Linked DNA regions of Homo sapiens: region 1 is linked to region 2. The links come from fine-mapping of genetic effects on gene expression. Tissue or cell type: whole blood. Region 2 holds a variant in brackets; the other region holds the start of a gene. All regions are shown on one strand. Distances are from middle to middle. Region 1 holds the start of SCFD1 (sec1 family domain containing 1). Region 2 overlaps G2E3 (G2/M-phase specific E3 ubiquitin protein ligase).

What was found.
Region 1: SCFD1 starts here. The variant in region 2 is fine-mapped to the expression of SCFD1 in whole blood (INTERVAL, PIP 0.95).

Annotation. Positions count from the first base shown.
Region 1 is chr14:30,617,984-30,626,593 of GRCh38, reverse strand. SCFD1 (sec1 family domain containing 1) reads right to left here and starts at 4,275. Exons shown (of 25, transcript NM_016106.4): 1 at 4,195-4,275. The coding sequence starts at 4,255. It overlaps G2E3 (G2/M-phase specific E3 ubiquitin protein ligase), which reads right to left. Exons shown (of 15, transcript NM_017769.5): 15 at 6,530-8,610. RefSeq lists enhancers at 3,993-4,672, 3,742-4,941.
Region 2 is chr14:30,566,693-30,575,302 of GRCh38, reverse strand. The region is part of intron 1 of G2E3 (G2/M-phase specific E3 ubiquitin protein ligase); the gene reads right to left. It overlaps G2E3-AS1 (G2E3 antisense RNA 1), which reads left to right. Exons shown (of 4, transcript NR_151720.1): 2 at 1,669-1,796. Among named protein-coding and RNA genes, the nearest start is that of G2E3-AS1, 6.4 kb to the left of the region's middle. The variant A/G (reference allele first, on the strand shown) is at 4,422.

The DNA.
Region 1 (8,610 bases), 51 kb before region 2:
TTTATATAGCAAAAATGTGGTTTATACAGCATTTTCACTTAACATTTCCCTAACAACCTCCACCTGGCAACCTTCATTCAACCCAAAACTCGGGGCCTTGATCCACTGCATGGCCTATGTTTCACTGGATGGGCTGGGGGCTCAGATGTTCCTCACAGACAAGGAATGAATCTCCAGGTGGGCCATTTTGATTCCCTAGCTTGAAACACATATCCAGGTGTGTCTGCAATACAGGGTCATTCTCAGGGCACGCTTAAGTTATTGCTATCAGGTGTATTTACCATACACCTACAGACATAATTTTTGGTAAAATGTTATTACCTAATGTCCAGCCAAAAATACACATTACCAATATTACCTACTTCAGAGGCCCACAGGTTTTACATTAAATAAAAATGTATTTTATTTAATGTATTTATAATATTAAATATATTTAATATAAACAAAAAAACAGTTTAACACTTAAAACTGAAATAACACAGGAAGCACGGAGGGGGTTTCAGGATTAACTCTCCCACTGTGCATTTGCAGAGCTCTTCCTCCACCTCCAGGCAATAAAGACACCACCACCCTGGCACTCACGCCCAAGAGGGAGGAAACCCTGTTTCTGGGAACAGCTGTTCACACTCTTGAAGCCTGACAACTTGGAAGAACGAAAGCCTGAGCTGCCATGTGAGCCTCAGGTGTTTAGTATGCTGCACAGTTAGGCCTTAGCTAACTGAAAGAGGCCAGCAGCAGCAAATAAGATAATCCTACATTCGCCTTCTCAGCCCAGTCTGAGATTTTCTCCAACTTTGAGCCTTGGCTAACTTATTAAAAGGTATTTTGATATACCTTTTACCTATATCAATATACCTATTGATATACCTATATACCTATATACCTATATACCTATACCTATATAGGTATACCTATATGCCTATATACCTATACCTATATAGGTATACCTATATGCCTATATACCTATACCTATATAGGTATACCTATACCTATAACAAAAAGGATTTGTTAATGGAGTACACGGCCTGTGTTCAGAGTTTACAAGAACGTAATTTTACTTTTATCAGAGTTTACCCAAGGCTTAAACCATGACTTTATCTGAAATGACAAACCATTTTTCTTATTGGCTCTAAATATACTACAGGTTGAGCATCCCAAGTCTTAATATCTGAAACCTGAAATGCTCCAAAATCAAAATTTTTTAAGCTGGTGCTCGGATTTTGAAATTTGGGATGCTCAACCAGTAATAATGCAAATATTCCAAAATCAAAAACACTCCTGGTCGCAAGCATTTTGGATAAGGGATACTCAACCTGTATCCATATTCCTAGACTTGGTTAATGTCATTACTTACATACACACTATTCATTCATTCAACACGTTTGATGAGTGCTCACCACAGGCACTGTAGTTATTGGGGATCTAGCAACTGAACAAAACAGTGAATAAAATCGCCTGTCCTCAAGTAGCTTTCATTCTAATTGGGGGATAAAAAAAATAAAATAAAAAAAAAGTAAAACATATGGTATGTAGATCATGGTAAGTGCTTTGAAGAAAGGTAAGATTGGGAAAGGGGAAGATGGAGTTGAGGTGTAATTTTAAACAGAATAATTGGGGAAAGCCTCCTGAGAAGGTAACATTTGAGTAAAGACCTAAAGGAAGTGAGGGAGTGAGCCATGGAGATTATCTCTGAAACAGTACTCCACAAAGAAGAAACAAATACAAAGGCTCGAAGGTGGGAGCATTCCTGGTGGGTTCAAGGAGAGGGAAGAGAAATAGGGAGTGAGGTCCAAAAGCTACATGGAAACCAGATCGTATAAAGCCTTGTAGAACACTGTAAGATCACTTTGGCTTTTATCATGGTTGAAATGGGAAGATGCTGGAAGATTTTGAGCAAACATATGGCATGATCAGTTTGGGTACTGTGTGAAAAATAATGAAGGAGAACAGGATTGTAAAAGCAAAGAGACCAAATAGGTTACTGCAGAAATTCATGGTGGACAGGACCTCGGAATAGCAATGACAACAGTCAGATCCTGGATGTATTTTCAGAGTAGAACTGACAAGATTTACTGAAAGATCTTACATGAGACATGAAAGAGACAAGTCAAGAAAACTTCAAGGTTTTTGACCTGAACAACTAAAAGGACGGAACTGCCATTAACTGATATGGAGTAGACTGAGTTCAGATGGGACGGCCAGACTAGGGATATAAACCTGGGAATCATCAACATACAGATAATACTGAAAGCTAAGGCGCTAGATGAGAACACTAATGGGACCCTGCAATGTTGAGAAGCTGGGAAGATGTGCAAGAACCTGTAACGAAGACGCATTCAATGAAGAACAACAGTAACACGGAGCAGGAGGCAACTGATTCTACCTATTGAACTGAAGGTATGGATAGAGGGGACAGTGAACCAGGAAGAAAGGAGATGGCTTGTGGGATGACCTTCAAAAGATCAATAAAGATTTTTCAGGAGACCAATAAAGATTTTTCAGGCAGGCAAAGCAAGAAACAGGCACGTTAGTTTACCTCTATCTTACTTTCCTCACCTGTAAAATGGAGATAATACATAATCACCTAATGCAATGCCTAACAATAGTAAATGCTCAATAAATGCCAACTATTATCTCATCCACCCAAATATTCTAGTATCTAGAATATTTAAGGACTGTGAGTTATCTCCCAAAACATTCTCCATAGGCATGAGGGAAATAGCTAATTCTGCATTATAATATATATACAAGGATTTACCTTCCTCTGAAAATAAGGCAGAATTCAATGACAGTAAAAATTTGATAAAAAATAGATCTAGCACTACCTAGTAATTCTGTAAAATCTTACTATGTTTATTTCTGCAGAAATACAAACGATTAGATTTTAATGATCTACAAAATTTCTGCATACAAGTTTACGGCCACGCAAATTTATTTTTCAAAAAGCTCTCTTGTATTGGTACAGTTTTACTGACACGTTATTTTAATATGTAGTATAGTCATCAGAAACACAGTATTAAAACAAATGGAGCTTCCATTTGTTTAAACATATACAACGAATGGCAGGTATGCCCCAAATCTTATTTGAACTTCCCTATATTTAGTTATGCCTGACTTCACCTGATAGGTTATACTAAATTATTTACTGGGAAAAGCAGAACGCAACTCAGTATCTTTTGTGTGTCATTACTAAATTGAAGTCTATCACTTTTTCTTTAAATGCCAAAGGAAGGAATCAAGTACAGCCCAAATCCCTTCTGTAGGTCATATGAATTATAAATTTATTTTCCTATTCATATTTATATCCAACAGAGCATAATTTCAGGAAACAGAATTCCAAGTATGCACATTCTTGATGCCTTATTTCTATTAGCTCCTCAGAATAAATTGCTTGAAAACTTTTAAGACAACTAGTTAACAAGTATAAACCTTTAGTTTGTAGCTAACAGGTATAAACCAAGTTGTCATGAGAAGTTTTCAAGTAAGGCAAAACTAATTTCTAAGACGGAAAAAAACCCAAAACTCAAGAGAAGAATATGTGCCTTTTTACATTTCTCTGCATAAATAGAAGCTATATAAACATGCTCTATTGAAGATAAAATATTATTTTAAAACAATGTGTCAAACAATTAAAATGAGAAAGCTATTAATTCATTTGTTTTGCCATTCTTCAATGCCTTCCAGCAAGCTGAAGGAGAAAATGTTTATCACCAGGCATTTTTCTGCAGGTACCCCCAAAAGACTGGTCCGAAGTAGAGAAGTGGCGCAAAGCAAGCCGCTGTGAAAATACCTAAATTCTCTGAGTGTCAGAAAATGGGAGTTCTCTTAAAAATCAAAACCAGGAGAACTGAACCACGCACAGAAACTCGGAGACCTCATAGGTGGCAACATAGATAAGAAGCTATCAGCTGCTAGATCTTGTTGTGATGGCCTTCTGATGCCCACTAGGAAGGAGACAAGAGCAGGGCCGTAGCAATCCGCCCACCGCTGAAGCTCCTTCTCCTGCACCACAGGAGGAACCGAGTCCTCAAGCTAATGGCAACTTCTCCCCAAAAACTCAAAGGGGAGGGGCTCTTGATGTTCTAGGGACTGGATTAAACTCCTGGAGATCGGTCTCTGAGCTGCACGCACCAGAGGAGAAGGATGTCGTCGGGGCAGTCACGAAGCTTCAAGGAGAAGAGAATAAGTCAGTACCTGTCTGCCTTTCCCGAATACTGGCTGCTGCTGCTGCTGTCGCTGCCGCCGCCGCCGCCATCTTGGCTCCCACGAGCCACTGCCCGGCTGGGGAGCGGAGCGGGGGGATGACGTGGCTGCCCTTACCGCCCCGGAAGCAAAGCCCGGAAGGGCGGGGCCAAAGGGTGTGCCTGAGTTCCGGACCCCACCTCCTCCAGGAAGACCTCCACTCTCGGTAGAACTGGGAGACCCGGTGCAGGTTAATTCAGTGGCCCGTAATGTTAGGCGAATACTAAGAGTTTTTATCCTACCGAATCAAGCCACACTCTCTCAAATGGTAGCAACATTAAATTGAGCTGTTAGGGTAGGAGCGTGTAGTGCTAAGAACCTAATTACTGAACTGTTGGTTTGGTGACTTACAGAGCACTTAAAGGGTGATAATGCTCTAGGAGTATAAGGACCACAGGACTGAAGTAAATGAAGCTCCTGAAACACAGGCAACATTTTAACGTTAGCTCTCGTTTCTCAGTGCAGCAGGAGTCTTCCCTTTGCTCCTTTCTCCAGAGAAACGGAAAGCATTGGAGCATTACTCTGATCTGGCATATTTCTCAGTCGCATCTCTTTAAAAAAAAAGGTGTAGCTTTATGGTGGCGTTCTGCCGGCATGGACACGGGATCCAGGGAGGTACAAAATGAGAAATTAGCATTTCTCCTCTTTCCTTGTAGTAATTGCAAAATCACCTTGCCGTGGGAAGGAAGTCAAGCAGTAGTGGGGTGTGTTGCCTAGGCTGGAGCGCGCAATCAGGGATCACTGCAGCCTCAAATTCTGACGGTCAAACGATCCTCCTGCTTCAGTCTCCCAAGTAGCTAGGGACTACAGGGGCACACCATCAGGCCAGGCTGATGTGCTGGTTTTTGTTGTTGTTTTGTTTTTGAGATAGTATCTCACTGTCTGTCGCTCAGGCTGGAGTGCAGTGGCAGAATCTCGGCTCACTGTAGTCTCGACCTCCCGGACTCAAGCGATCCTCCCAAACTATCCTTCCACCTCAGACTGCCCACTAGTTGGGACTATAGGCAGGGGTCACCACGCCCGGCTAAATTTTTTTTTTTTTTTTTTGTAGAGACGGGGATTCACCATGTTGGCCAGGCTGGTCTTGTGCTGGCGGTTTAATGTACACTTGAAGCCACGTGACCGCAAAATATATGGGATAGATGATTTCTAACTTAATCCATAGATTTTACTGTATGACCAAAATGGATACACAATGACACCTCATTTCCCGAGTTCATTGATGACGCTTCATTATGAAGTTGCACCAAATTCTGAAATGAAATCACTCTGTACCTCAAAAGCTTAACTTTCACAATTATATAAATGAAATGGTTAGCCTAACGATTATATATTGTTTTATAGTGTGAAACACTGGCTTTTTTCATTAATAAAAATTTATTTTTGTGACATTTAAAACAGGTTATCTTATTACATAATCTCTGCCGGGTGCGGTGGCTCACGCCTGTAATCCCAGCACTTTGGGAGGTAGAGGTGGGCAGATCACCTGACGTCAGTAGTTCGAGACCAGCCTGGCCAACATGGTGAAACCCGGTCTCTACTAAAAATACAAAATTAGCCGGGTGTGGTGGTGGGCGCCTTTAATCCCAGCTACTGGGGAGGCTGAGGCAGGAAGAACTGCTTGAACCTGGGAGGCGGAGGATGCAGTGAGCAGAGATCGCGCCACTGCACTCCAGCCTGGGTGACTGAGTGAGATTCTGTCTCAAAAAAGAAAAAAAAATTATGTAATCTCATTTTTATAGCTAATTGGCACATTCATTAAGAAATTAACTGGAATACATGTGTGTCTTCAGTACTATTACTAATATTTTGAAGGAATCTTCAATGATCTAGGTGTGTTCCAACTAAACAAATTATTTCTGCCCTATGGGAAAGTTCTACTGCATTCTACAGTCTCTATGAAATATAAAATGTCTGAGAGCCCAATTTTGCTCATTTGGGTACTTCCACTTTCAAATGCAAATCCATCATTGAGCCACTTCAGTTCCATCACAGATTCTCTCCCAAGACTATGAGTCATGTTAAAACCACGAAGACAATTTTAAAATTGATGTACACTGCATATATATGAAATGATAAAAACTCCTGACCAAGTGCACAGAATGTGGGCAATAAATTTATAGAAAAATACACCTCACAGAAGAACAGCAACCATAGACAAATAGCCCTTGTAAGGCTGAGACTGAATAAGGTATTTGTTTTATTAGAATCAGAAAGACTGAAAATAATCTATGGCTACAGATTGTTCATTAACCTAATTTACTATAGCCATTTATCTGAGTCCAGATTTTTGGCTTAAATAATTTATTCTGGTAAGCTATTTTACATTAGAGGATACATAGTTTTAACACAGATTCCCTCATTTCTATAGGTTCCTGGGTGTCAGACACTAACTGCTTGCTTATAGGATCTCTCAAATGTGGAGAGTAAAGGAATCTTGTATCTTTCAGTTTCGTCAGAATCTTAATCTTATTAAATCCCAAAAAATTACTTAGTTTAAATAGGCAGTTTACCTTTAGTGGCATAAACACATTTATTTATTTATAAAACATTGTTATAAATGTCACGCTTTTTGGTTAATCTGGCAGTCTTTAAAAGGGGGGGAAATAGGCTGACATATAAACGATCACCTAGCATAATACCTGGCATAGTGTAGGTACTGGGATATGTTTATGAATTAGAAGAGATAATGGTCAAAATCAGAACTTGAAAACTGAGTCTCTTCAAGACAATCCAAATTTTCCTAAACCACAGATAATATACATTCAAGTAATTCATCATTAAATGGGTTATGTTTTGTATTGCATTACTTGAAGCATGAAACTTTGTATTGCATTACTTGAACCATAAAAACTAGTTTAATAGCTTATTTTAAAGTAACAATGCAGTACATGATAATCACTATATAAAAGAATTACATGTTTATAATGTAATGATTTTGTTCTGATCATTTTCTTATAATGACTGAATGCTAAAGGCACAGTCACTGAAAAAACTTACCTAATATACTCCCCTTGACTTAGTATTTAGCACTGAATACAAAAGTTCCAATAGCTTCCATATAATTAGGGGAAAAATTTACAAATGCATAAAATAGAAACCAAGGTGAATTCTCATGCTGGTAATCAATCAAAGGCTTTTTACTTAACCCAAACAAAAAAAGTCACTTCCTCAAATTACAGAAACTAAAAATTACAAAGTATAAAATTGTAAGTTTCTGGTGAGATATTTTAAAGAATATCTTGAATAGTAGAGAATTGTATAAAAGGTGTTAAAGTTTCCATATTGGAAAGTGTTTAAAAACAATGAATATCAAACTAACCAAAACCATTAACAGTAGATGCATTATAGATCAATTTATAGTTTTCCTCAACATTAAGAGCAAGAGAAAACAGCCTTAAAATATACAACATTTAGGCAATTGCAATATTTAAGAAATATATGTACACATTTATAAAGATTTATAGCATAATTCTTTTTTAAAATCTAATGTAAGAATTATGCACTGGTTATAAAATTAATAAGAAAAGAACAATTATAATACCAACCATTTGACAAAATGACACTGCAGAAAATAAATAACCTACAGGTTTCTCTGATATTCCTTGACCATACAGATTAATCTAAAAATGGTAATAATGGAACATCCTTCAAACTAGAAAACATTTTGCAAAATAAATATTTATGCTTCACTTTAAAACATGAATATCCTAAATTATTTACACCATCTTATCACTAAGGCCCTGTCTATATATAAAATAAGTCAAATGAGGAATTGAAATACTGTTTTTAATTGTAGCTAACCCAAGTACACTGCCTCTCCACCTGCCACCCCCACCCCAACAAAGTATGTGTGTGTGACTTAATCAGCTTTAATTTCTACCCTAGGGGAAATTAATTGCAACTAAAAACCAGAAAATAGCTTTAACTAGGTTTTATTGGTTTGTATTGGTTTTTAGCTGTAATAAAAATAAGGTGGATAAAGAAACAAATATCTTTTTATCAACATATTTGGAATAAAAACTGTATGGTGACTTTGGGGTTTATATTAGCTATTCAAACTCTTTGATAATTGATCTTTCAATTACTATTGGTGAGACAAAAAAATTCAACCAAAGCCAAAGAAATGTCTTGTTTAATGTTCTTAAATATTTCAAGTTAAAGTAAAACAAATTTGCTAGGTATGTTAGTGTACAGATTGAAAAAGACATGAGGGAACAAAGAAAAGTACACTAGAATTATGTTTTAGTTTTCCTTTGGTATTAAGAGATATATTATCTCTTTCAAATCTATTCTGTTACTTAAAAAATATCAATAATGTAATGATTTTTCTTAAGAAGGGTGAGAATACAACAGCTGACACCTGCT
Region 2 (8,610 bases):
TATAAGGAACTTTAATTTACAAGAAAAAAACAACCCCATTAAAAAGTGGCCAAAGGACATAAGCAGATACTTCTCAAAAGAAGACATATACGCGACCAACAGGCATATGAAAAAAAGCTCAACATCACTAATCATTAGAGAAATGCAAATCAAAACTACAATGAGATACCATCTCACACCAGTCAGAATGGCTATTATCACAAAGTCAAAAAATAACAGATGCGGGTAAGGTTGTGGAGAAAAGGAAACACTTATACCCTGTTGGTGGTAGTGTAAATTAGTCCAACCACTGTGGAAAGCAGTATGGCAATCCACAAAGAGCAAAAAGCAGAACTACCATTTTACCCAGCAATCTCATTACTGGGTATATAGCCAGAGGACTATAAATCATTCTACCATAAAGACACATGCACACAAATGTTCACTGCAGCACTATTCACAATAGCAAAGACGTGGAATCAGCCTAAATGCCCATCAGTGACAGACTGGATAAAGAAAATAGGGTACAAATACACGATAAAATATTGTGCAGCCATAAAAAAGAGTAAGATCATGTCTTTTGCAGGAACATGGATGGAGCCGGAGGCTATTATCCTTAGCACAGTAATACAGGAACAAAAAACCAAATACCGCATGTTCTCACTTGTAAGTGGGAGCTAAATGATAAGAACTCATGAACACAAAGAAGGAAACAAGAGACACTGGGGTCTACCTGACGCAGGAGGGTGGGAGGAGGGAGAGGAGCAGAAAAGATAACTATTGGCTATTGGGCTTAATACCTGGGTGATGAAATAATATGTGCAACAAACCCCCATGACATGTTGTTTACCTATGTAACAAACCTTCACATGTACCCCCAAACCTAAAAAAAAAAAAAAGTTAAAAAAAAAAGATGAACTGTATTTTATTTACTACAAATGCATGAAGGATCCTGGACTGTATCCTGCACTGGGGAATAAAACTGCTCCAAAGGACATCACCGAGGCAATTGACCAAAACAATATTTAGTTGAAAGTATTGTATTTATGCTAAGTTTCCTGAAATTGGTATCCATATTTAGGTTATTTAGTAGACTATCACTGTTCTTAGGAAATACTGAAGCATTAAGGGGTAGGGGGACCAGATATATGCAACCTACTCTCCAACGGTTCAGAAAAGGGAAGTTACATGCAAATGTACAATACTGCAGGATGATAAAGTGAATGTGGAAAATAATAAAGAGTGGTTAATCTAGGTAAGGGCATATGTAGTTCTTTGTACTTTTCTTGCAACTTTCCTGTAACTTTAGAATAATTTCAAAATAAAAAAAGGTTTAAAAATAATTGAATTAAAAGTAATATAAAACATTCCCAAAAAATTCAAGATCAAGATTAATACAGTGTGATGGTTAATTTTATGTGTTACCTTTACCAGGCCACAGGACGCCCAGATATCTGGTTAAACTTATGTTTGGATGTGTCTGTGAGAGTGTTTCTGGAAAAGATTGGTAAACTTTACTCAGTTTACTGGTGAACTGAGCAAAGCAGATGGCCATCCCCAGCGTGGGTAGACATTAGCTAGTCCACTGAGGGCCTGAATAAAACCAGAAGGCAGAAAAAGGTTAAATTTGCTGTCTGACTGCTTGAGGTAGGACATCAATCTTCTGTCCTTGGTGTTCCTGGTTCTCAGGCCTTCAGATCCGGACTGGAACCTATACCATCAGCTGTTTGGCTCCAGACATTCAAACTACACTGCGGGACTTTCCTGGGTCTCCAGTTTGCAAACAGATAATGGGACTGTTCACACTACATAATCATGTGAGTCAATACCTTATAATAAATTAATCAATCCTTCCCTCTCCTTCTCTACACACACAGAGACACACACACACGCACACACACACACACACACACATATCCTGTTGTTTCTGTTTCTCTGGAGAACTGTGACTAATACACCCATGTTACCTCGGGATAGATAGTTAATACACTTTATGTGCTCCTACAAATTTGGAGACAAAAAGAAATACTCTTAAAGATTTGTTAGTTACTTTGGTTCACAGCAACAGCTAAGATAAAATTAGAAGAAAGACATTCAATGGTAGAGGTCAAAAGCTATTAGAATTTTTTTTTCATGAATCAATTATTTACATTCTAGGAAATAATAAACATATCTTAAAAATGTACATAAAAGCCAGGCACAGTGTTATGCACCTGTAGTCCCAGCTACTTGAAAGGCTGAAGCAGGAGGATTGCTTGAGCCCAGGAATTTGAGTCCACCTTGAGCAACATAGTGAGACCTCCATCCAAAAAAAAAGTACATAAAACATCAATATGATCTTCAATGTTTTTTAACCATAAATTATTACAAAAAGTAGCATGGTATAGTAGAAAGAGTACTAGGGGCATTGAAGGTATGAAGTTTAGACTTTCCTTCATGTTCTATATGTTTTTTCCTGAGACCTCAGCCTCAATTTTATCATCCCTCAAACTAGAAGCTAATTACAGGTTATTGTAAGAATTAGAAACAACACATAAACGCCACAAGAGTACCTGGCAAATTTAGTCAATCATTGGTAGTTTTTCTTTTAATTAAAAAAAAAAGGATAATATATCTTAACTGGATTTATCTTAGAAATATAAGATTAGATATCATCTGAAAAGTAAAGTAATACACCATGTTAATACAATAAGGGGTGAAAAAAGTATGACCATCTCAATAGATGCAGAAAGAGCATTTGACAAAATTCAACAACCAATCATGATAAAACTGTAGGACAAACCAGAAACAGACGGGAATTTTCTCAACCTAATAAAGGGCATCTACAAATGTGCATTAATTTCCACACTGTACTGTGACACAATGTCAACAGATACAAAAGGGCATCTGACAAATGTCAATATCCAATCATAACAAAACTGTAAAGCAAACTGTGGGTAAAATAAATTTTTTCAACCTAGCGAAGGGAATCTACAAACGTTCACCTTAGTCTCTGATTCAACAGTGTACTCCAAGGGAAAAGAAGACAAAACTGTGAAGGATGAAGTAAAACTGTTTTCACATATGATCATCTACATAGAAAATCCTACCAACATATTTATAAGAATAAGTGACTTTAACAAGTTGTAATGAAACAAGGCAAATCTGTATAACAGCAAGAATTAATCAGAAAATTAGAGAACAATTCTATTCACAATAGGTAAAAACTTAGTAAAAGATGTGGAAAAAGACTACACTCTGAAAAGCTACAAAACACTGCTGAGAGAAATGAAAGACCTAAATAAATGAAGAGATAGACAATGCTCATGGGCGTAATATTGTTAAGATGTCAATTTAACACAATCCCAACCAAAATCCCCAGCAGGTTTTTTTTTTTTTTAAGATACTGGCATGCTGATTCTAAAACCTATATAAAAATGCAAAAGTCTTGTAATAGCAAAAACATTTTTAAAAAGAAAAAGTGGTCTCCAACTATGTGATTTCATGACTTCTTATAGAGCTATGTTAATCAAGACAGATGTGTAGCTCAATAGATCATAAGGGAAAAGTCAGATATATAGCTCAATAGAACACAAGGGAAAGGCCAGAAACAGACCCAGACAATTGCTTTTCAACAAAGATACCAAGGTAATTCACTGTATTCAAATGGTAGTCTATTCAATAAATAGTATTGAAATAACTGAATGCTTTGGGCGGAGGGTGGGGGGAAGAACATTGACCTCATATATTAAAACTTAATTCAAATTGGATCACAAGAAAAAAAACTTCTAGAAGAAAACATAGTGAAGAATCTTCATGATCTTGGGGTTTGGCAAAGATTTCTTAGGAAACTGAATCATAAAAAACACTGATGAATTAAACATCAAAATTAAGAACTTTCTAATCAAAAAAACATAGTTAAGCAAAGAAAAAGGCAAAACACAGATTGGGAATAAACACTGGCAAAACATATACCTGACAAAGGATTTATATCCACAATGCATAAAGAATGCTTACAACTCAAATAGACATCACAATAAAATGAACAAAATGGACAAAAGATTTGACCAGACATTTAAAAAAAACACAACATAGCCAACAAGCAAAAGAAAATATGAACATCACTGGTCATAAAGGAAATGCACATTAAAATAGCAAAAAAAAAAAAGCAAACCCACTACAGCACCCACAAGAATACTTGTCTCACAAAAAATGAACTCAAAATGAATTACAGCTCTAAATACAAAATGTAAAACTATAAAATTTCTAGAAAAAACACAGAGGAGAAAATTTCTGTGACCTTATGTTACGTAAGATTTCTTAGATACAATACTGACAGCACAAGACAAAAAAAGATAAACTGTACTTAAAGTTAGTATCTTCTGCTCATCAAAAGACACTGTTAAGAGAATAAGACAAGCCTCAGACTGAGAAAGTATTTGCAAATCATAATCTGATAAAGG[A/G]CTTAGTTAGATCCACAATATATTTTCTGAAAAAACTCTTCAAACTTAGTAATACAGAACACATCCACGAAAATGGTGGAGCAAGGGGCTCTGCAGGCCTGTACCTCCCTAGAAACACAGAAAAACCTGGCAAAAAACTCACAATCAACAATGTCTCAACAAATAGAGAATATCAATAAAGAAGTAGAAATGATAAAAAGGAAATAGAAATTCTGCAGCTGAAAAGTACAATAACTGAAATAATAAATTCATTACAGAGGTTTAACAGCACGTTTGAGCAGGCAGGAGAAAGAATCAGCGAACTTGAAGACAGGTTAGTTGAAATTATCCAGTCTGAAGAGCAGAAAGAAAAAAAATGAAAAATAAACAGAGCCCAAGAGACTATGAGACACCATCAAGTATACCAATATATGCTTAATAGGAGTCCAAGAGGGACCGGAGAAAGTGGAACAGAAAGAATGTTTGAAGAAATAATAGCCAAAAACTTCCCAAATTTCATGGAAGACTGAAATCTATACAGGTAAGACTTCAATCTACACATTTTTAAGAAGCTCAAGATCTTTAATCAGGACAAATTCTAGGAGATCCACATTGAGACACAGTATAGTCAAACTGACAAAAACAAAGACAAAGAATCTTGAAAGCAGCAAGAGAGAAGTGATTAACACATACAAAATATCCCCAATAAGATTAAGAGCCAAATTCTCATTTGAAACCATAGAGTTCCAGAAGGCAGTGAGATGACATATTTAAAGTGCTGAAAGACAGGAAAAAAACCCAAACCTGTAAGCAAAGAATCCTATCTGCAGCAAAACTATGTTTCAAAAGTGAAGATGAGTACACATACTCACATGGGAGGCAGGCAAGTAAACAAATATTTCACACACATGCAGTGTAGCCTTACAGAGGTGGTGATATTATAACGTAATTGTGAAAAATAAATATTCTGAGCAGACAAGGCAGAAAAAGCATTCTAAGTAGAGTGTGTGCAAAGGTACAACAGTGTGTGAAAGCCTGGGATGTTTGGGGAATGTCAGGAATTTCTTCTGGAAGTTGCTCTTGCTGATTCTGCCATTTGGTTGGATTATATAAATCTCCTTGGATTGGATTATCAGATAGTAAGTAATATAATCCCCCCCCTTCACCAGCTGGTCCTAACCCTGACTTCGTGGGCAGGTCTTATTCCAGTCCTAGCCCCTTCCACTGACCAAGTCAGGCTCTAAATAACCAGCCCAATCCAAAGTACCCTTCTTAAAGCAGGTGGCATCTTTTTTACTACAGTTCAGGCAATAAAGGCTATTCTGTCACAACTCCCACAGAACCAGGTCTTCTCCTGTCTAAAAAATAAGGCCTTAATTATATTTTAACAGGACAATGTATCTGCTACCTTATGTGACAGAGCAATTAAACTTTTAAGATTCCAGGCAGGACCCAGGCAGAGGAACATGGCAGAAAGAACATTACACTTGAATTATACATTTTCTGTGTTTGAACTCCTTGCTCTGCCTTGTGTCCAATGGAGATGATAATACCTACCTATTAGGGTTCTTATATGCAAAGCAGGAGAAGTAATTCGATGGAGAGAAGGAAGGGTGAAAGGAATTCAGAAAGATCAGAAGTTTCTGAGATCAAGAAAGACCATAAAGTTTTTAGGTCCCTAACTGTTAATGGTGGTTATCCCTGGGGAGAGAGAAGGGGTAGGGGCTTTTTCTTTTAATTTCTTATAAATTTTGGCATTGTTTGACTTTTTACAATGAACATAATTATGTACTTAAAATATATTTGGCATATATATTATACCTCAATAAAAAGTTTCTTAAAAGCTTATATTCTCTGGAAAATCATCCAGGAGACAGACAAGAATGGCTGTTTCTCAGAAGGTCTGGTAGACCTGGGGTCTAGGGTGAAAGGGAAACTTTTAGTAGATCTGTCCTACTAGAGATGCTAATGGGACACCAGACAGTAAGTCAAAGCCATACGAGGAAATAAAAACACCAGTAAAGGTAATTACAGAAGTAAATATAAAAGCCAGTAGTATTATTGCACTTTTGGTAATTCTCTTTTTCCTTTATGATTTAAAAGAAAAACACGTAAAATAAATATAAATCAATGTTATTGGGCACATTATGTATAAATGTAAAATAAGCAAAAAATATAAAATGTAATTTGACACAATAACATTTAGGAAGAAGGATGAGATATACAGAAGTGTAATTTTTGTATACTATGAAAGCTGAGTGGGTATTAATTCAAACTAGGTTGTTATAAGTTTAAGATATTAATTGTAATCCCCAAGATAGCCACTAAGAATATAACTAAAAAATATGTGCAGAAAAGGTAATGAGAAGGGAATCAAAATGGTACACTATACAAATCAATTAAACAAAAGGCAATAAGGAAGGAAATGAGGAACAGAAAGATAGTATTTAGAAAACAAATACTAAAATGTCAGAAATCCTTCCTTAACAGTAATTAAATGTAAATGAATTACACGCTCCAATTAAAAGGCAAAGGTTGACAGAATGAATTTTTTTAAAATCCATACATACACTATCTACTAGGGTCAAGCTATAGATATCAAAACACAAATAGATGGAAAGTAAAATGACAGAATAAGATACTTCATACAAACAGTAATCAAAAGTAAGCTTGGGTGTTTATACTAATGTCAGACAAAACAGGCTTTAAGTTGAAGATTGTTACAGGACTCAAAGGACATTAAAGACTGACTAAAAAGTTCAATCCATCAAGAAGACATGACAATTATAAACACAAACCCACCTAATAAGAGCCCCAAAATATACAAGGCAAAATTTGACAGAAATGAAAGGAGAAATAGTTTAGACTTAACATATACAGAACACTCCACCCTACAACAGAATGAAACATTCTTCTCAAATGCACGTGGAACAATATCCATGGATATACCATGTTAGACCACAAAATAATACATTTTACAAGACTGAAATCACACAAAATATCCTCTCCAATGACTATGGAATGAAACTAGAAATCAATAAAAGGAAAACTGGAAAACTGAGAAACATATGGAGATTAAATAACAACTTTAAATAGACAAAAAGTCAAAAAAGAAATCACAAGGGAAATTAGAAAATACTTAGAGACAAATAAAATCAAGCCCCCAAAACAATGACCCAACTATATGCCCAAAGAAACTAGAAAAAGACCAAACTAAACCCAAAGCTAGCAGAAGGAAGGAAATAATTTAGAGTCCAGATAATGTAATAAAAAAATTTTTAAATTGAGAATCAATAAAATAAAAATTGCTTGAGAAGATCGACAAAATTGAAAACGTTTAGTTAGATGACCCAGAGAAAAAAAAGAGAAGACTCAAATTACTAAATCAGAAGAAATGAAAGTGGGACACTGCTACAGACCTAATACAAATAAAAAGAATTAAATGAGACTATTATGAACAATTGTACTCTAAGAAGTTAAAAGTTAACAAATTAAACAATAGGTTAAACAAATAACAAAAGTGACAAGAAGAAATAGAAAATTTCAACAAATCTACAAACAAGAGATTGAATCACTAATGAAGAACCTCCCAACGAATAAAGTCCTAGCCCAGATGGGTTCACTGGTGAACCCTATTAAACCTTTGAAGAAAAATTGGCACCAATCTTTCTCAAACCCCTCCAAAAGATATTATGACACTTCCTAACTCATTTTATGAAGCCACCAATACCCCGATACCAAAGCCAGAAAAAGACATCACAGAAAATAAAACTACAAGCCAATTATCTCTTATGAACATAGATGCAAATATCCTTAACAAACTACCAGCAAACTGATTCTGATAAAGAAAATTTTGTACCATAACCAAGTGGGATTTATCCCAGAAATGCAAAGGTGGTTCAGCATATGGAAATCAACCAATATAATATACCATACTAATAGAGAAAAAGGAAAAGGTCACATGCTCATCTCAATAGATGCAGAAAAAGCATTTGACAAAATACAACTCATTGATGATAAAAACACTCAAACATTTAGGAATATAAGGGAACTTCCTCAGCATCTATGGAAAAACCTGTAATTAACATAATTATCAGTGAAAGACTGCACACTTTCCACCTAAGATCTGGAACAAAACAAAGATACACACTTCCACCACTTGTAGTCAACACTGAACCAGAAGGTCTATTCAGAATAATAAAGCAAGAAA